Linked DNA regions of Homo sapiens. The protein of the gene in region 3 interacts with the protein of the main gene of each other region in a pairwise test. Each region holds a gene or a part of one and is shown on either strand. Other genes may lie near its edges. The genes, in order: NEMP1, KRTAP5-7, SCARF1 and GJA8.

Evidence for each region.
Region 1: the proteins of SCARF1 (region 3) and NEMP1 interact in binary tests that used the Homo sapiens proteins (3 or more experiments, as listed by UniProt).
Region 2: the proteins of SCARF1 (region 3) and KRTAP5-7 interact in binary tests that used the Homo sapiens proteins (3 or more experiments, as listed by UniProt).
Region 4: the proteins of SCARF1 (region 3) and GJA8 interact in binary tests that used the Homo sapiens proteins (3 or more experiments, as listed by UniProt).

Annotation. Positions count from the first base shown.
Region 1 is NC_000012.12:57,075,792-57,082,837, reverse strand, and holds the start of NEMP1 (nuclear envelope integral membrane protein 1 isoform a precursor), read left to right. Parts: upstream 1-4,046; 5' UTR 4,047-4,092; coding exon 4,093-4,219; intron 4,220-7,046. UniProt on the Homo sapiens protein: Together with EMD, contributes to nuclear envelope stiffness in germ cells. Required for female fertility. Essential for normal erythropoiesis. Required for efficient nuclear envelope opening and enucleation during the late stages of erythroblast maturation.
Region 2 is NC_000011.10:71,522,996-71,529,194, reverse strand, and holds KRTAP5-7 (keratin-associated protein 5-7), read right to left. Parts: upstream 1,929-6,199; 5' UTR 1,895-1,928; coding exon 1,397-1,894; 3' UTR 526-1,396; downstream 1-525. UniProt on the Homo sapiens protein: In the hair cortex, hair keratin intermediate filaments are embedded in an interfilamentous matrix, consisting of hair keratin-associated protein (KRTAP), which are essential for the formation of a rigid and resistant hair shaft through their extensive disulfide bond cross-linking with abundant cysteine residues of hair keratins.
Region 3 is NC_000017.11:1,635,730-1,642,765, reverse strand, and holds part of SCARF1 (scavenger receptor class F member 1 isoform 1 precursor), read left to right. Parts: intron 1-2,099; coding exon 2,100-2,318; intron 2,319-2,725; coding exon 2,726-2,854; intron 2,855-3,023; coding exon 3,024-3,127; intron 3,128-3,839; coding exon 3,840-3,960; intron 3,961-5,703; coding exon 5,704-5,825; intron 5,826-5,910; coding exon 5,911-6,057; intron 6,058-7,036. UniProt on the Homo sapiens protein: Mediates the binding and degradation of acetylated low density lipoprotein (Ac-LDL). Mediates heterophilic interactions, suggesting a function as adhesion protein. Plays a role in the regulation of neurite-like outgrowth.
Region 4 is NC_000001.11:147,905,761-147,909,771, reverse strand, and holds the end of GJA8 (gap junction alpha-8 protein), read right to left. Parts: intron 2,617-4,011; exon of another isoform or gene 1,828-2,616; 5' UTR 1,817-1,827; coding exon 515-1,816; 3' UTR 503-514; downstream 1-502.

The DNA.
Region 1 (7,046 bases), on a different chromosome or scaffold from region 3:
GTTTCACTATGTTGCCCAGGCTGGTCTCAAACTCCTAGGCTCAAGTGATCCACCTGCCTCGGCCTCCCAAGACATTGGGATTACAGGCATGAGCCACTGCACCTGCCCAATTTATTCATTTTTTTAGCAACAAGGTCTTACTCTGTCACCCAGGGTGGAGTGCAGAGGCATGATCATGGCTCACTGCAGGCTCAACCTCCCAGACTCAAGTGATCGTCCCATCTCAGCCTCCTGAGCAGCTGGGACTACAGGCACGTGCCAACACACTTGGCTAATTTTTGTATTTTTGTAAAGACAGAGTCCTACTATGTTGCCCAGGCTGGTCTTGAATTCCTGGGCTCAAGCCATCCTCAGACCCGGTCTCCTAAAGTGCTGGGATCACAGGTGTGAACCACTGAGGCTAGCCAACTTTATTTTTAGAAACATTACATGTACAGAAAAATTGAAAAGATAATATGGTGAATTCCTATATACCCTACATTCAATTTCCTCAATTATTATCTGACATTAGTATGGTACATTTAGCACCATTAATGAAACAGTATTGAAACATTATTATTAACTAAAGTCTACAGTTTATTCAGATTTCCTTTGAGTTTTTGTTGTTGTTGTTGTTGTTTAGACTGAGTCTTACTCTGTCACCGGGCTGGAGTGCAGTGGCACTGATCTTGGCTCACTGCTGCAACCTCCGCCTCCCAGGTTCAAGTGATTCTCCTGCCTCAGCCTCCTGAGTAGCTGGGTTTACAGGTGCCCGCCATACGCCCAGCTAATTTTTGTATTTTTAGTAGAGACGGGGTTTCACTATGGTGGCCAGGCTGGTCTTGAACTCCTGATCTCGTGATTCGCCCGCCTTGGCCTCCCAAAGTGCTGGGATTACAGGCGTGAGCCACCATGCTCAGCCTCCGTGTTTTTTTTTGTTTTCTTATTTTTTGAGACGGAGTCTTGCTCTGTCGCCCAGGCTGGAGTGCAGTGGAGCGATCTCAGCTCACTGCAAGTTCCGCCTCCCAGGTTCACACCACTCTCCTGCCTCAGCCTCCTGAGTAGCTGGGACTACAGGTACCTGCCACCACGCCCGACTAATTTTTTTTATTTTTAGTAGAGACGGGGTTTCACCATGTTAGCCAGGATGGTCTCCATCTCCTGACCTCATGATCCGCCCGCCTCAGCCTCCCAAAGTGCTGGGATTACAGGCATGAGCCACCGTGCCCAGCCTCGTTTTTTTAAACTAATGTGTTTTTCTGTTCCAGGATCCCATCTAGACCACCACATTATGTTTAGTTCTCAAAAACATAATGGGCTGGGCATGGTGGCTCATGCCTGTAATCCCAGCACTTCGGGAGGCCGAGGCGGGCAAATCACCTGAGGTCGGGAGTTCAAGACCAGCTTGACCAACATGGAGAAACCCCATCTCTACTAAAAATATGAAATTAGCTGGGCGGGGTGGCACACACCTGTAATCCCAGCTACTTGGGAGGCTGAGGCAGGAGAATCGCTTGAACCTGGGAGGGGGAGGTTGCGGTGAGCCAAGTTTGTGCCATTGCACTCCAGCCTGCTCAACAAGAGTGAAACTCTGTCTCAAAAAACAAAAACAAAAAAGCCCATAATGATGTTTGGATGACTTTGACAGCTTTGAGGAGTACTGGTCAGGTATTTTGTAGGATGCCTCTATTGGAATTTGTCTAATGTTTTTCTCAAGATTAGAGTGGTGTTATGGGTTTTGGGAAGGAAAACCACAGAGTTAAAATGCCATTTTCATCTCATGTTATCAAGGGTACATAGTATCAACATGATTGATGCTGACTTCCCTAGGTCAGCTGAGGGAGTGTGTGTGTGAAATACAGGATGACCATATCAGCACTGTTGGCCTAGACTTTTCCTTCTGAGAATGAAATCTCTTCTCTTGCCCATAGCTCAGCCCCATTTTGACTTTTTTTTTTTTTTTTTGAGACAAGAGAGGCTCGCTCTGTCACCCAGGCTGGAGTGAAGTGGCATGATCTCGGCTCACTGCAACCTCTGCCTCCTGGGCTCAAGCAATTCTTCTGTCTCAGACTCCTAAGTAGCTGGGATTACAGGAACCTGCCACCATGCTGGGCTAATTTTTGTATTTTTATTAGAGATAGGGTTTTGCTGTGTTGGCCAGGCTGGTCTCGAACTTCTGGCCTCAAGTGATCCTCCCACCTCAACCTCCCAAAAGTGCTGGGATTACAGGCATGAGCCACCATGCCCAGCCCATTTTGACTTTTTTTTTTTTTCTCTTTTGAGACAGAGTCTTGCTCTGTCACCCAGTCTGGAGTGCAATGGGGCGATCTTGGCTCACTGCAGCCTCCGCCTCCTGGGTTCAAGGGATTCTCCTGCCTCAGCCTCCTGAGTAGCTGGGCTTACAGCCACCTACCACCATGCCTGGCTAATTTTTGTATTTTTAGTAGAGACGGGGTTTTGCCATGTTGGCCAGGCTGGTCTCGAACTCCTGACCTCAGTTGATCCACCCGCCTCGGACTCCCAAAGTGTTAGGATTACAGACCTGAGCCACCATGCCCGGCCCATTTTGACTTTTAAAAAGGTCCTTGTTTTAGACCAGGTGCAGTAGCTTACTCCTGTAATTTCAGTAATTTGGGAGGCCAAGGTGGGATAATCACTTGAGGCCAGGAGTTTGAGGTCAGCCTGGGCAACATAGCAAGATATTGTCTCTACAAAAAGTAATTAAAAAAAATTAAGCCAGACATAGTGGCTCATGCCTGTAGTCCCAGCTACTTGGGAGATTGAAGTGGGAGGATCATTTGATCCTGGGAGTTCGAGGCTGCAGTGAGCTGTGGTTACACCACTGCATTCCAGAAGGGTTACAGAAGGAGACCTTGTCTCAATAACAACAACAACAACAACAACAACAATGAAACAAACAAATAGCTGGGCATGGTGGTGCATCCCTGTAGCCCAACCTATCTAGGAAGCTGAGGTGGGAAGATGGTTTAAGTCCAGGAATTCAAGGTTACACTGAGCTGTGATGGTGCTGTTGCACTCCAGCTTGGGTGTCAGAGAATGACCCTGTCTCTAAAAACATTAAAAAAAAAAATTCTTGTTTTGAAAGCTTGAACCTTCCCCAGGAGATGCCCCCTTCCTTGAATTCCTCAATTCATTTGGCTCTATCATCTGTAGTTTTCCTACCCATCACCATCAGATCCTCTTAAAAAAAAAGTTTCAATTTCTACTAACAGTTTCTGAACACCTGGATCTCTGCTGGGCCCTGTGTTAAATCATTGAATGGGAAGCAGCTAATCCATATAAATAACTCCGGCTTTGGAGTCAGTAGGATTTAGGTTGGGATCACAGACCAGATGAACTATGAAATCTTGGGCAGGTTCCTGTGGCTGTCTTGGCTTTGGCTTCTTAAATGGAGAGAATTATATTTGTCTCACAAGATGATAAGAGGAATAAATGAATCTTTCTTAATCCTAACATTAATTTTACTTCCAAAAATAAAAATCCTATGAATACATTTTTAAAAGCTAATGTTTATGCTTATAAAATATTGACACACACTTTTTTGTGACTTCTATTTTAAATCCTTTAGGACTTTGGAGAACCACACTTTTGTCAGTCGACTTTAAAAATCGTCCTATCAGGGTCCTACTCATAAAGCGATCTCAATTGTAGGCGTCTCATAACAGAAAGGTCGTGATAAAAAGTAACCGAAAGAAAACGGAAGGAACTTCAGACAGCTTCTATGGAAATACCGAGTTTGGTCAAGGAGGCCTCTCCCATTCCGATTTTCTATTGGTTAAACTTACCATCAATCACACCAGTTGTAAATAAACTGAAGACGGAAGCATGTTGTTAGCGGGGTGGGATCTTCCTGTCGCCACTGCTAGGGTGAGAACCCATTTTCCAATAGGCTGAAAGCTGCTTTTCCCGCCCTCTCTCTTCAGTTGCTAAGGGGCGGGACTCATAGGGCCCTTGGAGGGCTGGGTGCTCGAAGCCCTGCCCATCCCATTGGTTGATAGGGGCGGGTTTCGTAGAGGATAGGCTGCTGTCGTTGCCCGTTCGGAGTTAGTTGCTGGGGTAAGGCACGTGAGGAGGAGGTGGCTTGAGGCAACCATGGCGGGAGGAATGAAAGTGGCGGTCTCGCCGGCAGTTGGTCCCGGGCCCTGGGGCTCGGGAGTCGGGGGCGGTGGGACAGTGCGGCTACTCTTGATCCTCTCCGGCTGCTTGGTCTACGGCACAGGTACCGCCCGGGCAGCAGCTGCCAAGGGGGCAGGTGCCGAGGGGGTTATTTTTGGAAAAGGGATTGTCCCGAGGGCGCGGGCCGTTACTCTGCAGAAGGGCGGTGGCTCTACCGAGGGCCGCCGGCGTAGTGTGGTGGAAGAAACTTGGCAGGCTAGTGGGCGTCGGGACTGAGGGTCTGGGCCCTGAAGCGGGCTGGGGCAGCTTCCAGAGTGGGGAGGAGCCTGAAGCCTTTTGGCGGAGACAGGAAGGGAGGCCTAGACTGGTTGAGAAGCAGTCCTGGGGGCTGTGTCTCGTTGCAGAAGCCTTGAGTTTCTTGGTTAAAAGCGAGAAAACCTGGGGACCATTCTGGGCAGGCAGAGCAGCCGCGGGAAAGGGACCATCTCATTCATTCGGCAAATCAGCAAACACCATCTGAGCGTATGCTCTGTCAGGACGCAGGGCACGGGTGGCAGAACGGATGTAGTTGACAGAAATGCAGTGATCTCTACTATCTTCTGCTCTTGTAAAACCTTGATTCCTTACCGCCCCCGGCCCGCGAGATGGAGTCTAGCTCTGTCACTCAGGCTGGAGTGCAGTGGTGCGATCTCGCTCACTGCAACCTCCGCCTCCTGGGTTCAAGCAATTCTCCTGCTTCAGCCTCCGGAGTAGCTGGGATTACAGGCACCCGCCACCGCGCCCGGCTAATTTTTGTATTTTTAGTAGAAATGGGGTTTCACTATGTTGGCCAGGGTGGTCTCGAACTCCTGACCTCGTGATCCATCCGCCTTGGCCCTCCCAAAGTGCTGGGATTACAGGTGTGAGCCACCGTGACCGGCCAAATAATGCATGTTTATTTTAGATGATTTGGCAAGGTACAATTAAGTATAAAGAAGCAGGCAGAAACCACACTGTTAATCCATTCAGAAGCAATCTATTTTAGCACACTTTCTTCTGATCTTTTTCCACATATTTTTAATTTTTTATGAATTGATAATTTGTATCCAGTTAGTACTCTAGTTCTCTTCCCTGGAGGCTGCCAGTCGTTACCAGAGATAGTTTTCTCGTTTGATTTTGTAGTACAATAATTTTCCCAAGTAATTTAAAATTCTTTTTTTGTTTTTTTGTTTGTTTGTTTGTTTGAGATGGAGTTTTGCTCTTGTTGCCCAGGCTGGAGTGCAGTGGTGCAATCTCAGCTCACTGCAACCTCCGCCTCCTGGGTTTAAATGATTCTCCTGCCTCAGCCTCCTGAGTAGCTGGGATTACACTTGCCCGCCACCACGCCCGGCTAATTTTTTTTTTTTTTTTTTAAACAGAGTCTCCCTCTTTCGCGCAGGCTGGAGTGCAGTGGCCAGATCTCGGCTCACTGCAAGCTCCGCCTCCCAGGTTCACGCCATTCTCCTGCCTCAGCCTCCCGAGTAGCTGGGACTACAGGCGCCCACCACCACGCCCGGCTAATTTTTTGTATTTTTAGTAGAGAGGGGGTTTCACCGTGTTAGCCAGGATGGTCTTGATCTCCTGACCTCGTGATCCGCCCGCCTCGGCCTCCCAAAGTGCTGGGATTACAGGCATGAGCCTCCACACCCGGCCTTAAAATTCTTTGTAAATGTTGTCTTACTTGTATTACATTCCAATGTATGTGCAGATGTTCATTTAATTTTTTTTCTCCACCCCCCGCCCGCCCCGCCCCGCAGAATGTAGTCTTGCTGTCTGGCCCAGGCTGGAGTGCAGTGGTGCAATCTCGGTTCCTGTTTCAAGCCATTCTCCCATCTCAGCCTCCCAAGTAGCTGGGACTACAGGCATGTGCCACCACACTCGGCTAATTTTTTTTTTTTTGAGACAGAGTTTCGCCCTCGTTGCCTAGGCTGGAGTGCAATGGCACTATCTAGGCTCACTGCAACCTCAGCCTCCAGAGTTCAAGCACTTCTCCCTCTGCCTCCCGAGTAGCTGGGATTATAGGCGCATGCCACCATGCCTGGCTAACTTTTTGTATTTTTTGTACAGACGGGGTTTCACCAGGCTGGCCAGGCTGGTCTCAAACTCCTGACCTCGTGATCTGCCCACCTCAGCCTCCCAAAGTGCTGGGATTACAGGCGTGAGCCACCACGCCCAGCCACACTCAGCTAATTTTGTATTTTTAGTAGAGATGGGGTTTCACCATGTTGGCTAGGTTGGTCTCGAACTCCTGACCTCAGGTGTTCCGCCCGCCTCAGCCTACCAAAGTACTGGGATTACAGGCGTGAGCCACCATGCCTGGCCTTCATTTATTATTTTTTAGTGACGTGGTTTTGCTGTGACACCCAGGCTAGAGTGCAGTGCACAATCATAGCTCACTGTAACTTCCCACCTCGGTCTCCCCAAGTAGCTGGGACTACAGGCACGTGCCATCTGCCTGGTAAAAATCATTATTAATGTTGTGGATTAAACATTTGGTTGGATATTGGTGGTTTGTACTGTTGGTTGGATATTTGTGGTATTTCTAGTTTTTCATTGTTGTAAGTTTGTGAACATCTTTGTGTATACATTTTTATTTATTTATTTATTTATTTTTTTGAGATGGAGTCTTGCTCTGTTGCCCAGGCTGGAGTGCAGTGGTGCCATCTCGGCCACCTAGGTTCAAGCGATTCTCCTACCTCACCCTCCCGAGTAGCTGGGATTACAGGTGTGTGCCACCATGCCCGGGTAATTTTTTTGTATTTTTAGTAGAGTGGGATTTCGCCATGTTGGCCAGGCTGGTCTCAAACTCCTGACCTCAAGTGATCTGCCCGCCTCAGCCTCCCAAAGTGCTGGGATTACAGGTGTGTGCCACCATGCCCGGGTAATTTTTTTGTATTTTTAGTAGAGTGGGA
Region 2 (6,199 bases), on a different chromosome or scaffold from region 3:
GTTCTGATACCAACCTAATTATGCATTTGCTTTTTCCATACAGCATTCACAGCAGAATAACGACACCACTGCTGCCACCATGACTACTAAAAATAGCTTAGGAATTTTATTTTTGTGTTCTTTCTATGCTTAGGACATATCCCACCAATAAATTGCTGTGTTTCCAAATAACTTGAAATAATTCAACTCTATTAATATTGCCTTTTTTTTTTTTTGACGGAGTCTTGCTCTGTCGCCCAGAATGGAGTGCAGTGGCGCGACCTCGACTCATCACAACCTCCCCCTCCCAGGTTGAAGCCATTCTCCTCCCTCAGCCTCCGAAGTAGCCAGGATTACAGACACGTGCCACCACACTCAGCTAATTTTTATATTTTTAGTAGAGACAGGGTTTCACCATGTTGGCCAGTCAGGTCGCAAACTCCTAACCTCAAGTGATCCGCCTGCCTCGGCCTCCCAAAGTGCTGGGATTATAGGCGTGAGCCACTACGCCCGGCCCTTTCAAAATTCTTAAAAAGCAATATTGGCTTGGTGCTAGGAGTGTTTATTTACAGAGGCAACAGGCTGTGTAACAACAAAGACAATCAGAGTAAGTTGGTTACAAAAACTTCCCAAAGGAAGATGGCAGAGGCCTGGACCAGGGAAAGGAGGCAAGTCTGAACTCCCCAGAGTTTTCAGCAGCCTCTTCTGCTTCTGTGGCCCTGGCCTGAGGAACAGTCCTGTCTCCATCAGATCAATAGCTGGAAAGACCTAGGAAGAGAGGGGTTCTGAGAAAAGAGGGGTCAGCCAGGAAGGAGATGAGAGGCAGAGGAGACAGCCAGCCCCATCCTAGCACCTTCCAGCAACATCAGCATCAGACCCACGCAGTCCGAAACACAACAAGAACAAGAAAACAATAGCCATAGCCATAGTAATGACCCCGAACAACAGAGAAATCAGCAAGATATGTGTTTCAGTTTGTCGGCATGGTATTTTTATTAGTTTGCAACTTTTCATTTAAGATAAAGCAGAGTGTTGGACAGGCAAAGCCACTCCAAGGAAGCCTCTTAAACGCCCACCTTGTTGCAGGTGGGACACTCATGCCCAGCTGCTCCAGCTGGAAAAGACAGGACTTCAAGTGGGTTCAGGAGCTCAGGCCTCTGAATACACAAGCAAAGGCAAGGCTAGCGGGTGAGGGGTGATTCAGCCGCAGTTGCAGTTGACTTGGGAAGAGAATTTGTTAGGAGGGAATGGACATTAATTAGGGTGGACTCTCCTTAGGAAAAGGCAGGCAGATATGGCTTCATCTTATAGTGAGGAATGGACCCTGAGCAGTGGTTTGGGGCTCAACGATGAAGGACAGGTCACAGCTTCGGAAAATGGGGTTAGCAGGACTCACATGAGACCTGAGTCCAGAGCCTCAGATCTTACACTGGCAGCACACGGGGACACAGCAGCTAGACTGGGAGCAGCAGGGATTGCAGCAACTGGACTGGCAGCAGGATGACCCACAGCCTGAGGAACAGCAGCAGGGCTTACAGCAGCTGGACTGGCAGCAGCAGGGCTTACAGCAGCTGGACTGGCAGCAGGATGACCCACAGCCTGAGGAGCAGCAGCAGGGCTTATAGCAGCTGCACTGGGAGCAGCCACAAGAACCACAGCCCCCCTTAGAACCCCCACAAGAGCCACAGCCCCCCTTGGAGCCCCCACAGGAGCCACAGCCTCCCTTGGAGCCCCCACAGGAGCCACAGCTGGAGCAGGAACAGGCTGGCACACAGCAGCACACGGGCTTGCAGCAGCAGACGGGCACACAGCAGCTGGAGCCACATCCCCCACAGCCAGAGCCACAGCCCCCACAGCCGGAGCCACAGCCCCCACAGCCGGAGCCACAGCCTTCGGAACAGCCACAGCAGCCCATGGTTCTGGTGGATTGAGGGTGGAGCAGGTAGAGGAGCAGGTGAGAGGGAGGTGCAGGTGTGGAGCCCCCTGAGCCCGGGCTCTTTATATACCTGTCCAGAGGTCAGGCACAATACAGGGTCGCTTCCTTGTGACTGTTTACGCTATTTTTCCAGAGCTCTATTTTTTTTCCTCTTTGCTAGTGACTTCCTCCTGGCTCAGTTGAGCATCTACTTTCTTTGTTTACTAAATTTGTCTTTTTCCCTATTTGTTTTGGCCCCTACAATTGAAACCTCAGCTCCAGGCTGTCTGGTGCTTCCCGCAAAGCTCCAGGGTGCTGGTCACCTGCTCTCTGCTGACCACATGTGACCAATGGGCAACAGCCTTTGCCCACGTGCTCTCATCTTTCCTGTGTTGACTCCCCCAGGAATATTAATTTCACATTTTTAGATTTCAAAATTATCCATGGTCTTTATATTTTACTCATGCCATTCTCAGTTTTGCATTGCTCTAAAGAAATACTTGAAGCTGGGTAATTTATAAAGGAAAGGTTAGAATGGCTCATGGTTCTGCAGGCTGCACAAGCATGGCACCCACCTCTGCTCAGCTTCTGGGCAGGCCCTCAGGGAGCTTTTCCTCATGGTGGAAGGTGAAGCAGGAGCAGGCTCACCACATCGTGAGAGTGGGAGCAAGGGGTGAGGAGGGGCCACACACTTGCGAACAACCAGATCTGAGTGAACACACTCATCACCAAGGAGATGGCGCTAAGCCAGTCATGAGGGATCCGCCCCCATGACCTAAACACCTCCTTGCAGGCCCCTCCTTCAACACTGGGGATTACATTTCGACAAGAGATTTGGAGGGGACATCCCAACTGTATCATTATCCCCTTGACCCCTCAAATCTCATGTCCTTACATTGCAGAATAGAATCATCTCTTCCCAACAGTCCTCTCAATGTCTTGACTCATTCCAACATCAAGTCCAAAGTCCCAAGTCCAAGTCCCTTCCACCAATGAACTTGTGAAAATCAAAACACATTATTTACTTTGAAGATACATGAGGGTGGAGGCATTGGGTAAACATTCCCATTCCAAAAGGGAGAAATCAGCCCAAAGGAAGGGGCTACAGACCCCATGCATGTCTGAAATCCAGCAGGGCAGCCATTAAATCTTAAAGCTCCAAAATAATGTCCTTGGACTCCCAGTCCCACATCCAGGGTACACTGGAGTGAGGGGTGGGCTCCTAAGGCCTTGGGGAACTCCACCCTTGTGGCTTTGCAAGGTTCGCACCCTGCAGCTGCTCTCATGGGTTGGAGTTGTGTGCCTGCAGCTTCTCCATGCTCAAGATGTAAGCTGCCAGTGGCTCTACCATTCTGGGGCCTGGAGGATGGTGTCCTCCTCCCCACAGCTCAATTAAGCAATGCCCCAGTGGGGACTCTGTGTGGGCCTCCTACTCCACATTTCCCCTCTACACTGCCCTAGTATATATCCTCTGTGCGGGCTCTGCCCCTGCAGCAGGCTTCTGCCTGAGTGCCCAGGCTTTCTCATAAATCCTCTGCAATCTAGGTAGAGGATCCCAAGCCTCCTTCACTCTTGTATTCTACGCACCTACAGGCTTAACACCACATGGGAGCTACCAAGGCTTATGGCTTGCACCCTCTGAAGCCAGAGTTACATTTGGGGTCTTTTGAGCTGAGGCTGGAGCTGGAGTAGCCTATGTGTGGGGAGCAGTGCTCCAAGGCTATGCAGGGCAGTGAGGGCCTGGGGTGAGCCCCTGAAACCATGGTGTCCTCCTAGACCTCTAGGTCAGTGATGAGAGGGGCTGTCTCAAACACTTTTGAAATGCATTTGAAGTCTTTTCCAATTGTGTTGGCTATTAGCACTTGGGTTTTTTTGTTTGTTTTTTGAGTCATGCTAATATCTCTAGCAGGTGGTTGCTCTATAGCCTGCTTGGATTCCTCTCCTGATAATGCTTTTTCATTCTCTGCCACATGGCCATGCTGCAAAGTTTCCAAACTTTTACACTTTGATTCCCTTTTAAATATAAATTCCAACTTTAATTCATTTATGTGCTCTTGCATGTGAGAATACGATGTTAGATTCAGTCAGGCCACAGCTTGAATGTTTGCTGCTTAGAAATTTCTTCCACTAGATATCCTAAGTCATCACTCCTAAGTAGAAATTTTCAGAGCCCCCTAGGGCATGAAGCACAATATGGTCAAGCTCTCTGCCAAGGTGTAACACAAGTGATCTTTGTTTTAGTTTTCAGTAAGTTCCTCATTTCCATCTGAGACCTCATCAGGCTGGACTTCATTGTTCTTATCACTTTAATTATTTTGGACACAACCATTTAACCAGTCTCAAAGGAGTTCCCACCTTTTCCTCATCTTTCTGTCTTCTTCTGAGCCCTCCAAAAATCTTCCAATCTCTGGCCATTACCCAGTTCCAAAGTCACCTCCACATTTTCAGGTGACTTTATAGCAACATACCATTCCTGGTACAGTTTTCTGTATTTTTTGTGTTGCCATAAAGAAATATCTGAGGCTGGGTAATTTATAAATAAAAAAGGTTTAATTGGCTCCTGGTTCTGCTAGTTGTACAAGCATGGCACCGACATCTGCTCAGCTTCTGGTGAGGCCCTCAGGGAGCTTTTATTCATGGTAGAAGGCAAAGCAGGAGCAGGCATGCCACATGGTGACAGCTGAGAAAGAGAGAGCTGGTGGAGGGACAGAGGCCACACATTTTTTTTTTGAGATGGAGTTTTGCTCTTGTTACTCAGGCTGGAGTACAATGGCATGATCTCGGCTCACCGCAACCTCCGCTTCCCAGGTTCAAGTGATTCTCCTGCCTCAGCCTCCCGAATAGCTGGGAGTACAGGCATGCACCACCACACCTGGCTAATTTTGTATTTTTAGTAGAGACAGGGTTTCTCCCTGTTGGTCAGGCTGGTCTCGAACTCCTGACCTCAGGTGATCTGCCCACCTCAGCCTCCCAAAGTGTTGAGATGACATGCATGAGCCACCATGCCTGGTCAGTGCCACATATTTTTAAACAACCAGATCTTGCTCGAACTTATTCATCACCAAGGAGATGGTGCTAAACCATTCATGAAAAATCTACACCCATGATCCAAACACCTCCCAGCAGGCCCCACCAACATAAGATTTGGAGGAAGCATGCAAACTATATTACTGGGGATCACTTTTTTTTTTTTAGATGAAGTCTTCCTCTGTCACCTGGGCTGGATTGCAGTGACGTGACCACAGCTTACTGCACCTTCAAACTTCTGGGCTTAAGGAATCTTCCCGCCTTGGCCTCCTAGGTAGCTGGGAATATAGGCATGTATCACCATACCCAGCTAACTTTTAAACTTTTTGTAGAGATGGGGCCTTGCCATGTTGCTCTGGCTGGTCTCAAACTCCTGGCCTCCAGTGATCCTCCTACCTTGGCCTCCCAAAGTGCTGGGATTGCAGGTGTGAGCCACTGCACCCAGACAATATCCTTTCCTTTCCTATCCAAATAAGAATAATCTATCCTCATCTTGTTGTTTGTGGGGAATCTTTTCCCCTACTCAATTATTTCTGAAAATCTCACAAGTCTCTCTGCTGTTGTTTTCTCTCTTCCCCAGGCAGAGTGTTCACTCCTCTTAGGCTGCTTACTTCAGCTGCTCAGCTGGGTTCCCTGCTCAGTTGTACTCCATGTGGGGAGAGAGGTTCCTTTATGCCATGGTCTGCATGTGTCCCCCAAAATTCATGTATTAGAAACTTCATCCCCAATGCAAGAGTGTTGGGAGGTGGGGCCTAACAAAAGGTACTTGGAATGAATTAGTGCTGCTCCAAGAAGGACTTGAGAGAGGGCATTCACCCCTTTCTGTTCTTCTGCCATGTGAGGACAACATATTCATGCTCTCTTGCCCTTCTGCCTTCCAATATGTGAAGACACAGTAAGAAGGCCCACACCAGATATCAGCACCTTGATCTTGGACTTCCCAGCCTTCAGGACTCTGAGAAAGTACATTTCTGTTCTTTATCAATTACCCAGGTCAATTATTATCTTATAGCAGCAATAATGGACTGAGGCACTCTAGTCACAAAACCATTGCTTATATGAGGCTACTTTCTTTGTTTAAGGGATGCATGCTAAACCCTGAGGAGAGCATAAGAGGGGCACATTACTGAAAAGAAACTGAAGTCTGCTTACCAGATGTCCCTGCTCCTCAAATCTCTTGGCCGTGCGATTGGGCATTGTTTCACCAGTGTACTCACCTAAGAACACAGCAGCATGTCACCAATGTACTCGCCCAAGAATACAGCAGCATGTCCTCAG
Region 3 (7,036 bases):
GCACTCCAGCCTGGGCCAGAGAGCAAGACTCCGTCTCAAACAAAACAAAACAAAAACTTTTAAAAACGCTTTGTTGCCCCAGGTCCAGCCTCACCTGCTCATTTCATTGATTACTGCTGTGCAAAATATACTAGCACTGCTAGCAAGCCATATGTAGGTAATAAGTGGATCGAGTCCAACAATGATAGACTGGGTTAAGAAAATGTGGCACATATACACCATGGAATACTATGCAGCCATAAAAAATGATGAGTTCATGTCCTTTGTAGGGACATGGAAGAAATTGGAAATCATCATTCTCAGTAAACTATCGCGAGAACAAAAAACCAAACACCGCATATTCTCACTCATAGGTGGGAGTTGAACAATGGAATCACATGGACACAGGAAGGGGAATATCACACTCTGGGGACTGTTGTGGGGTGGGGGGAGGGGGGAGGGATAGCATTGGCAGATATACTTAATGCTAGATGACGAGCTAGTGGGTGCAGCACACCAACATGGCACATGTATACGTATGTAACTAACCTGCACAATGTGCACATGTACCCTAAAACTTAAAGTATAATAATAAAAAAATATATATAAATATATTTAAAAAAAGAAAATTAAAAAAATGGTTTCTTACAAAAAAAATAATAAATAAGTGGATCGAGTGACCAAGGGTCCTGAGCAAGGTCCCTTTAGGGCTCAGTGGCTTTCAAACTTTGACTGGCTGCACTCACAGTAAGAAATTTCATCCCTGGCTGGGCGCGGTGGCTCACGCCTGTAATCCCAGCACTTTGAGAGGCCGAGGCGGGCGGATCACCTGAGGTCAGGAGTTCGAGACCAGCCTGGCTAACATGGTGAAACCTCGTCTCTACTAAAAATACAAAAATTAGCCGGGCATGGTGTTGGGCGCCTGTAATCCCAGCTACTTGGGAGGCTGAGGCAGGAGAATCACTTGAACCCGGGAGGCGGAGGTTGCAGTGAGCCAAGATCGCGCCACTGCACGCCAGCCTGGGCGACAGAGTGAGACTCAGTCTTGAAGAAAATAATAATAAAATAAAATAAGAAATAAAAATGCTGGTCAGGATCAGCTAAATGGCTTTTATAAACTGCCCTTCTTCTCCCCTACTAATGGGTCTGACCCAAGTATATGATCCCAGCTAGTTAAGCATCTGAGGGAGAAACTTCAGGTAACTATTAGGCATCAATGGGAAATTAAGATATGGCAAATGTGAAATTATATTGGTGACAACAGTGGTCTCCAACCTTTTGGCACCAGGGACTGGTTTCATGGCAGACAATTTTTCTATTATTACACTGTAATCTATAATGAAATAATAATATGACTCACCATAATATAGAATCAGTGGGAGCCCTGAGCTTGCTTTCCCGCAGCTCGAGGGTCCCATCTGGGGGTGATGGGAGACAGTGACAGATCATCAGGCATTAGATCCTCGTAAAGAGCATGGAACCTGGACCCTCCCGTGCGCAGTTCACAATAGGACTGGCGCTCCTATGAGAATCTGAGGCCACCACTGATCTGGCTGGCAGCGGAGCTCAGGCGGTCAGGCTCCCCTGCTGGTCATCTCTACGCTGTCGCCCAGTTCCTAACATGCCACGGACTAGTACCAGTCCATGGCCCAGGGTTTGAGGACCCCTGGGTGAAAACACTTTACATTTTTTGCATTTCGTGTGATGGGGTAGAAGACACTACTGAGTCCCATTCATGCCAGACCTGGGGACGGCTCAGTGTGGAAAAAGGAAAAGTGAAAAGAGCAGGAGGGAAGGCCTGGCAGACCTCGCAAATGGGACTCAGAGCTTGGTGGTGACTCGCCTGCCCTGGCTGGGCTGCTGGCTCCTGATGGTCCTGGGACCCAGGGAAAGACGGTCACAGAGCAGATGCCTGGAAGGAAAGGGATGGGATCCTGTAAGAGCCCTCATTTGTCCTCATTGTACAACGTGGGGAAACTGAGGCTCAAACCTGCCTGACCCAGGTGGGACCCGAACACTCTCCAGGGCCCCCGAAGGCCTGCGTGGAGTACAGGGGTAGGAGGGGGTGGGCGCTCCATCCATCCACCCCCACTGTTCCCACGAAGCCCTTCTCTTCCCAGCTGTGGCCGCTGCAAACACAATGAGCCGTGCTCTCCAGACACAGGCAGCTGTGAGTCCTGCGAGCCGGGCTGGAACGGGACCCAGTGCCAGCAGCCCTGCCTGCCTGGCACCTTTGGCGAGAGCTGCGAACAGCAGTGCCCTCACTGCCGACATGGGGAGGCCTGTGAGCCAGATACTGGCCACTGTCAGCGCTGTGACCCTGGCTGGCTGGGGCCCAGGTGAGGGCACCATTCTGTTCAGGGTGGGGTACACCTTCCCCCAGGACCCTCAGCTCAGCGGCTCTCTCCGAGAGCACCACCCTCCCCGACACACAGGTTCATGCGGCCCCAGGGGCCTCCCTCCTGTTGAAGACTGGGGGAGAGCAGTGGGTTCTGGGGGGGCCTGGGCAGGATCCCAGCTCCCTCCCCTCTGAGGCTTCCTGCCCTCCTCGCCCTCTGGGGACTTGTAGTCTGTCACCTGCTGGATTTGGCCCCAAGTTCAAGGCCCTATTTGCACCTGAGCTTCACTGCTGAGGAGTGGCCAGTTGGGTCCTTGAGTCCAGGAGCGTGGGGCGGAGGGGTGGGGCCCCACAGTGGGGGCCAGGCCTGCCTTGGTCTCCCCTTCCCCGAGTCTTGCCTCACCCCAGGTGTGAAGACCCCTGCCCCACTGGTACCTTTGGGGAAGACTGTGGCTCTACCTGCCCCACCTGTGTTCAGGGGTCCTGTGATACTGTGACAGGGGACTGTGTCTGCAGTGCCGGCTACTGGGGGCCCAGGTAAGGATGGGGATCCCGGGGGCGGGAGAGTGCCAGGGGCCTAGGTCAGGGCTCTGTGCAGCATTTCCTGAACTTCCCTGGACAGTGCCCAGAAATCTCCCTGCCCGTCTCCTGCCTGCCTCCCCCACTTCACCCAGCCCTCAGCCTGCCTCTCCATGTCACTCCATAGCTGCAACGCCTCCTGCCCAGCCGGTTTCCATGGAAACAACTGCTCAGTTCCTTGTGAATGCCCAGAGGGACTCTGCCACCCTGTCTCTGGGTCCTGCCAGCCAGGTAAGGTGGAAGAAGGCTGCGGGGTGCAGTAGCCAGGGAAAGGCGGGCCCTTCACATGGGCTCCAGGGCAAGTTCCTCACCAGGGAGTCTGGGCCCACTTCAGAGATATTCTTTTTTTTTTTTTTTTTTCCCTTAAGACGAGGTCTTGCTCTGTCACCCAGGCCAGAGTGCAGTGGTGTGATGTCAGCTCACTGCAACCTCCACCTCCCAGGTTCAAGCCATTCTCCCATCTCAGCCTCTCGAGTAGCTGGGATTACAGGCGCACGCCTCCATGCCTGGCTAATTTTTATATTTTAGTAGAGACAGGGTTTCACCATGTTGGCCAGGCTGGTCTCAAGCTCCTGACCTCAGGTGATCTGCCCACCTCGGCCTCCCAAAGTGCTGGGATTACAGACGTGAGCCACTGTGCCCGGCCCAGAGACATTCTTTATACCTGAGCTCTGTGTGGATGCTCTGGGGCCCCCTGAAGATGTGACAGAGCCCCCGCCCCTGCGAAACCAGGCTAGAGCCGTGAAATGGGCAGCGGGGTGGCTGGACACTGACATGGCCTCAGGGGCAAGAACCTGTGGAGGGGACACGCCAGCAGAGGGGCTGCCCGGAGGCAGGGAGTGACCCCCAGGAAGAAGCTTCTGGGTAGCAGGCAACTCAGAGCAAAGACAGGATGTGTAGGAGACAGGAAGGCCTGAATATCCCCCGTTTCTGGCTCCCCCAGGCTCTGGCAGTCGGGACACTGCCCTCATCGCGGGCAGCCTTGTGCCTCTGCTGCTGCTCTTCCTGGGCCTTGCCTGCTGTGCCTGCTGCTGCTGGGCCCCCCGATCAGACCTCAAGGACAGGTGAACGCCAGCCCGTCCCTTCCCCACACAGCTCAGGCCACAGGGTGGGAGCAGGGGGGCATCTGGTTTCCTTGTGGGGTGGGGAGGGCTGGCCTTGTTGCCCACGTGGGTCAGAGGTGATGGGGGTGGGGAGGGCTGGCCTTGTCGCCCCCGTGGGTCAGAGGTGATGGGGGTGGGGAGGGCTGGCCTTGTCGCCCACGTAGGTCAGAGGTGATGGAGGTAGTTGGCAGTGCCCGTGGCCTGGAGACACTGGAGACACCGGGTCAGCTGCCTGCCCTCCTCGGAAGCCTTCAATGAGGAAGTTTCTGAGTTGCATGGGCACCAGGCTGGCGAACCGGAGCCTGCAGCGGGAGGCAGAAAGCTGACACCGGCGGGGACCAGAGGAGGAGGGCTGGGACCACGGAAGGAGCAGCCCGGCTCTGGGCCAGGAGGGAAAGAGACCAGGCCTCAGATGGCCCACGAAGGAAAGAGACATCAATGTCTGTGCAGTGGTTTAGCAGAGAGTGTAGCTGCCTGAGAGACGGAGAGGGGAGGAAGGGTTGGGCTGGTGGGGCCCGCGCAGGGGGCTTACGCAGAGCTTTGTTCCTTTATGAAACCTCGTCACATTCCAGGCTCCTTTGAGACTCACAGCAGCGTGGAGGTTTGGAACAGGGAGTGTGGGGCCGGGAGGATAAATGTCCTCAATTCCCAGAGGACATTGAGGCCCAAGGTGATCTAGTTGGTACTGGCACACAGGAAGCCCCTCTCCACCTTTTTGGACTCTTTGTCTGGTGCTCTCTTACTAGTTCCTGCCCTAGTCCAATAGCACATCCTCCTCTGTGCTTGTGCGGCATTCACAGAGGAGCAGATACAGTTGCCCCTGGCCCAGGGCATAGAGCCCAGGGTGGGAAGAAGCCCCTCGCAGGGACACGAGGACAGGTGCAAAGGCTGTTGGAGGAACAGTGAAGAGCAGAGCAGTCTCCTCCACATGTGGGGGTAGAGCAGAGTGGGAACAAGGGAAGGCTTCCTGGAGGGGGTGTCATTTGAGACAGGTGCGCCGGGCGCAGTGACTCACGCCTGTAATCCCAGCACTTTGGGAGGCCAAGGTGAGTGGATCACCTGAGGTCAGGAGTTCAAGACCAGCCTGGCCAACATGGTGAAACCCCGTCTCTACTAAAAATACAAAATTAGCCGGGTGTGGTGGTGCACGCCTGTAATCCCAGCTACTCAGGAGGCTGAGGCAGGAGAATCACTTGAATCCAGGAGGCGAAGGTTGCGGTGAGCCAAGATCGTACCACTGCACTCCAGCCTGGGCAACAAAAGCGAGACTCTGTCCCAAAAATAGAGAGAGAGAGAGAGAGAGAAACGTGAGCTGAGGCTCAGCTAGGATGATAATAACAAAGACCTGCCAGGTCCTGCAAAAAGCTCAGATAGATGATAGATAGATGGATAGATATAGATAGATAGATAGATAGATAGATAGATAGATAGATAGATAGGATCTGTTTTACAGATGCGGAAACTGAGGCCTAGGGAGGTGAAGTGTGAACCAGAGTTGTTACTCGGCTGTCTGACTCTAGAGCCACTCTTTGTTCTGTGGCAGGCCTGAATTGTGGGCTCAATCATTTGGATTTTATTCTGTAGTCAATAGAGAGCCACTGAAGCCACTGAAGTAGAGGCAGTCACCCTGTCACACCCTGCCAAGGTGACCCAGGTCACCGTGGGTCTCATGTACTGACCAGTGTCCCTACCCTCCTCCCTCAGGCCAGCGAGAGATGGAGCTACCGTGTCCAGGATGAAGCTGCAGGTCTGGGGGACACTGACCAGCTTGGGCTCCACGCTGCCCTGCCGTTCCCTCAGCTCCCACAAGCTACCCTGGGTGACAGGTCAGTGGGCGCTGGGGGCCGGGGTCTGGGATTGGACAGGGCTTTGCATCAGGTCCTGCAGGCGCCTGATCTGGAGTCTCTACAGTCTCACATCACGACCCGGAGGTCCCCTTCAACCACAGCTTCATCGAGCCGCCCTCTGCCGGCTGGGCCACTGATGACTCCTTCTCATCCGATCCTGAGTCTGGAGAGGCAGATGAGGTTCCTGCCTACTGTGTGCCACCCCAAGAAGGTAGCCCCCCAACAGCCCACATAGCCCCTGAGCAGCCCTGCCCACCACGACCCCCTCTTTAGTCCTCCAGCAAAGTTATTTATTTTTATTTTTTTTTGAGACTGGGTCTTGCTCTGTCGCCAGGCTGGAGTGCAGTGGTGCGATCTCAGCTCACTGCAACCTCTGCCTCCCGGGTTCAAGTGATTCCCCTGCCTCAGCCTCCCAAATAGCTGGGATTACAGGCGTGCACCACCACACACGGCTAATTTTTATATTTTAGTAGAGACCGGGTTTCACCGTGTTAGCCAGGATCGTGATCCACCCGCCTCAGCCTCCCAGAGTGCTGGGATTACAGGCATGAGCCACTGCGCCTGGCCAGCAAACAGTTATTAAGGGCCCATTTTGTGTTAGTCACTGTTCTTGGCTCCGGGCATGCAAGAGATAACAAGACAGATTCCTATCCTCACCAGGCTTAGAGTCAGATGGGCAGTCATCAGACAATGACAGGACACAGTGATATGTGTTTCCATGGGGGACATACAAGTAGGGACTCATTTGCTAGCCATGTTGGGGTGACTGGGGTCAGGGACGATGTGTGTGGCATCCCAGTCGAGTCTAGCAGAATCAGTAGGAGTTGGCCAAGTGAAAGTCAGGGAGAGGAGGGAATGGTGTTTCAGGAAGATGGAACAGCATACACAAAGGCCCAGAGGTGAGAGGGATGTGGCTGTGTGCCATCGAAAGAGTTTTAGCTTGGTAAGAGTGTGACAGTATTTCAAAGTAGGGAGAGGTGGTGAGAAAAGAGTATAGAGACCAGGTGTGGTGACTCACACCTGTGATCCCAGCACTTTGGGAGGCTGAGGCGGGAGGACTGCTTGAGGCCAGGGGTTTGATACCAGCCTGGCCAACATAGTGAGACCCCATCTCTACAATTAAAAAAAAAAAAAGTGTAGAAGTAACAGTGTCTACCTGAATTGGTCCTTCTGCCACTCTCCTCATCCTT
Region 4 (4,011 bases), on a different chromosome or scaffold from region 3:
CACAGCCCCATTCTCTCCCTTGCATTAGAACAGGCCTGTCTTGCAACTTATGTCACCTGTCTGTATTCTGTAGGCTTTTGAGTCTGGATCCCTGAAATATGGTCACATGGTATCTGCTTCAGAAATGCTGGGATGATAGATTCTGGCTTAGTGAGCTTGAGACAAGATGGGTAAAAGGCTATGAGGCAACCCCAATTCCGATTTAAGGGTTTCTATGGAGAAATGGGGATGAAAGAAGAGTCACCCATAGCTGCTGGGGTTGGAGGAGCGGGGTAGTCCTATGAGACTGGGGAACTTTAGTGGGTCGATGGGTTTATCTTGGTAGCCCTTATGCTGGATGTGGGAAAGACTGTTTCCTAGAGTTGCCTGGAGTGCACTGCCCTGCTGCAGTGCCTGTCCAACCAGAGGCTGGTGGGAGGACAGGAGACAGAAGATTCAGATCATGTTGGCACCTGTTCCTTTCATCTTGCCCTACGTAAGCTTGGGCGTTTTTTTTTTTTTCTTTGGCGTCACTTCATACGGTTAGATCGTCTGACCTGGCTCGGCTGCTGGCTTTGCTTAGCCTGCTCAGGGGTCTGGCATCATCTGTTGTCAGCTCTGGACAGAGTGAAGGTGTCTTCTCAGCTGGCAGCCCTTGCTTTGACACCTTCTCCGACTGCGGCTCTTCTTTTTCACCCTCCTTATCCACTCCGGGGGTCTCTACTTTCTCCCCCTCTGGCACGGCCACCTTCTCCTGCTCCTCCGTGGTCAGCCTCTCTGCTTCCTCCTTCTTCTCTCCCACCTCGGGTTCGGCTCCCTCCTCTGCAGGCGGCCCCTCGCCCTCCACTTCTTGTGCCCCCACCTGAGCGTAGGAAGGCAGTGTCTCTTGGTAGCCCCGGGACAAGTCCCCCAGGGGTCCTGTGCTGATCTTCTCCTCGAACTGATTGAAAGGCTTGGCAGGCAGTGGGCTGGTCTCCACCATCCCAACCTCGGTCAAGGGGAAATAGTGGGAAACGATTTTCTCTTCTTCTAGGAGCTGATAGCCCTTGGCTTTCTGGATGGAGGAGACAGCAATGGAGTGGAGGGATTTCTCAGGAATCTCCCCCAGGGGCTGCTCTACAGGCCTCTTCAAGGCAGACCGGATCCCCTTCAGGCCCAGGTGGCCCAACTCCATCACGTTGAGGAATAGGGACACAGAGGCCACAGACAACATGAACAGGATGAAGATGGTTTTCTCCGTGGGCCGGGACACGAAGCAGTCCACCACATTGGGGCAGGGCCACCGGCTGCAGCGGTACAGAGGCAGGATCCGGAACCCGTACAGGAAGTAGTGGCCCACGATGAAGCCCACTTCAAAGAGGGTCTTGAAGATGATGTGGCAGATGTAGGTCCTCAGCAGGGTCCCCTCCAGCCGGAACTTCTTAGTGCCTTTGCTGCCGCTGCTCTTCTTGACGCTGCCCTGGTCCGGGCCGCCGTTAGTCCCCGCCTGCTGGCCCAGCTCCTCCGCCTCGCGGCTTTTGCGCTTCTCCTCCATGCGGACGTAGTGCACCGCGTGCCCCACGTACATCAGGGACGGGGTGGAGACGAAGATGATCTGCAGCACCCAGAGGCGAATGTGGGAGATGGGAAAGGCCTCGTCGTAGCAGACGTTCTCGCAGCCAGGCTGCTGGGTGTTGCACACGAAGTCGGATTGCTCATCCCCCCACACGAACTCTGCGGCCGTGCCAAGGATGAGGATCCGGAAGATGAAAAGCACGGTGAGCCAGACTCTGCCGATGACGGTGGAGTGCTCATTCACCTCCTCCAAGATGTTCCCCAGGAAACTCCAGTCGCCCATTTCTCACCCACCTGAAGAAATGAGGGAGAAGGCAAGAGCTGAGCGGCCGCAATGCAACCCTGAGTCAATATCTGTTTTTGCTAACGCGGGGTACCTCTCCTTTCCAAGTTGCCAGAACGGTCAATGTGCACACAGCGTCTATCCAGTGCTTCCTTTGTGCAGACTAGGACTAGAGAACAAAGAAGGCCCCGAAGAATGTGCTTCCATCCGCTTCCTCATCTGTAAAATGGGTTTAATAATAATAATACCTATTCTCATTCACTTCACAAATGGTCTGAAAGCATCAATGAGGCAATATTTGTATAATTCCTTAAAGTCCACCAAAAATAAGGATTCATTGTTGACCATAAATAGAAACCCTTGGTTACATGGATTTAAATCAAGACCACACACTGATCTAAGTTTCGTGAGACATAATGCTGAAGAGTTCCCTTATACTATGGGTGTCTGGGCTCCCAACACAATTCTTGTATGTATGAAATTGTCTGTGGCCATCTTATGTTTGAGTGTCAGAATATATAATGATCGTATATTTGAAGGGAAGTGGAAGGGGATTAGCATTTATTGAATACCAACTTTGTGAAAGAACTTTGACATTATATTATTTCATTTAACTTGATCCTGCTAGACTGTAATTTCCATGACGGTAGGAGCCATGCCTGTCTTATTTACAGCTATATACTCAATGCCTGACATACAGCCCAGCACACAGTGAGAACTTGATAAGTATTTGTTAACTAAGTTGATTCCAACAAATAAGAAAACTGAAGGCCAGGCACAGTGGCTCATGCCTGTAATCCTAGAACTTTGGGAGGCCAGGGCAAGAGAATCACTTGAGCCCAGGAGATAGAGACTAGCCTGGGCAACACAGTGAGACCCCATCTCTACAAAAAACTTTAAAAACTAGCTGGGCTCGGTGGTGCATGCCTGTGTTCCCAGCTACTTGGGAGGCTGAGCCAGGAAGATTGCTTGAGCCTGGGAGGTCGAGGTTGCAGTGAACCCTGATATGTGCCACTATACTCCATCCTGGGCAACAGAGAAAGACCCTGTCTCAAAGGAAAAAGAAAAAAAAGAAAAAAGAAATCTGAGGCTCAGAGAGGCTAAATATATTGTCCAAGATTAGACAGCTAAATAGCAGCAGTTCTGTTTGCTTGATCACAAAGGCTGGGTTCTTCCCACTACACCATTGAGATAAACTGCCTGCAATCAAAGCTACACAATTCTTTGACTTCTGTGCTCTTAATTTATGTTTCCTCTTCTCTAGGTTGAAATCTGGAAACCCTTATTAATAGCTTTACACATTGAGGGCCGTATATTTTTATTATTACTCTTTTAAATCCAAAGAACAGAGAGAATGCTTTGGGAAGGAATCATGTCACAGGATGAGGAAGGTCTTCTAGGACACTTTTAGTGTCCTATGGAATGAAAATGTTTCAGGGTCTGTAACATATGGCTGTTTTAATAGAGTCAAAAATTTGGTCTATAGAAAAAATATCGTTAAACATGATAGTATATAATGCCTGTAGCACAGCAATGGCTAATGGAAATGGCATTGAGCTGACAAGGGGCTGGCTGCAACTGGGTCATTCATCCAGTGCAAACCTGTAACCTATAAAGAATGATGAGCAAAACTTCCACCTCAATGGAGAACAGTTGTTCCTGCAGCTTGAACATCTCTAGAGTTATAAGTTTACTCATCACTGCCCTCAGACCAGGGCAAGAGCCCATGTTAGAGGATCTTGCTCTGGGCTTCTTCTAGCCATGCCCCATGCTATAGGCCTAGGAACCTATGGGGCTAAAGGGATATGCCTATTGTTTTTTAATCACAGTGATATTTGTTAAACACAAAAGCCTATTTCCAACCTGTGATTTGGAGTCTGGCCAGACAGAACCTGGTGGCAGGATACTAATTGCAGGCATCTGCAATGTCCAGCCTGTGCTGTCAGGGCAGGCACAATAGCTGTTCGCTTCTTGTGGGAGAGCAGAGAGTGCTCCTCCTCTTGAGGCCTCATAAGCTCCCAATCAGGCAGGGCATCCTGCAGCAGCTTCTCTTCTCCTGAAAAAGTGACAGCAGCTGTGGCATCCCCAGTCATGGGTCTGGCATTGGGAAGAGTTCCTTGGAGAAATGGGTAATGGAGAGGGGGAAGGACCCAGCAGCTCGGAATCGGAACCAGCAACTCAATCCCAGCCACATG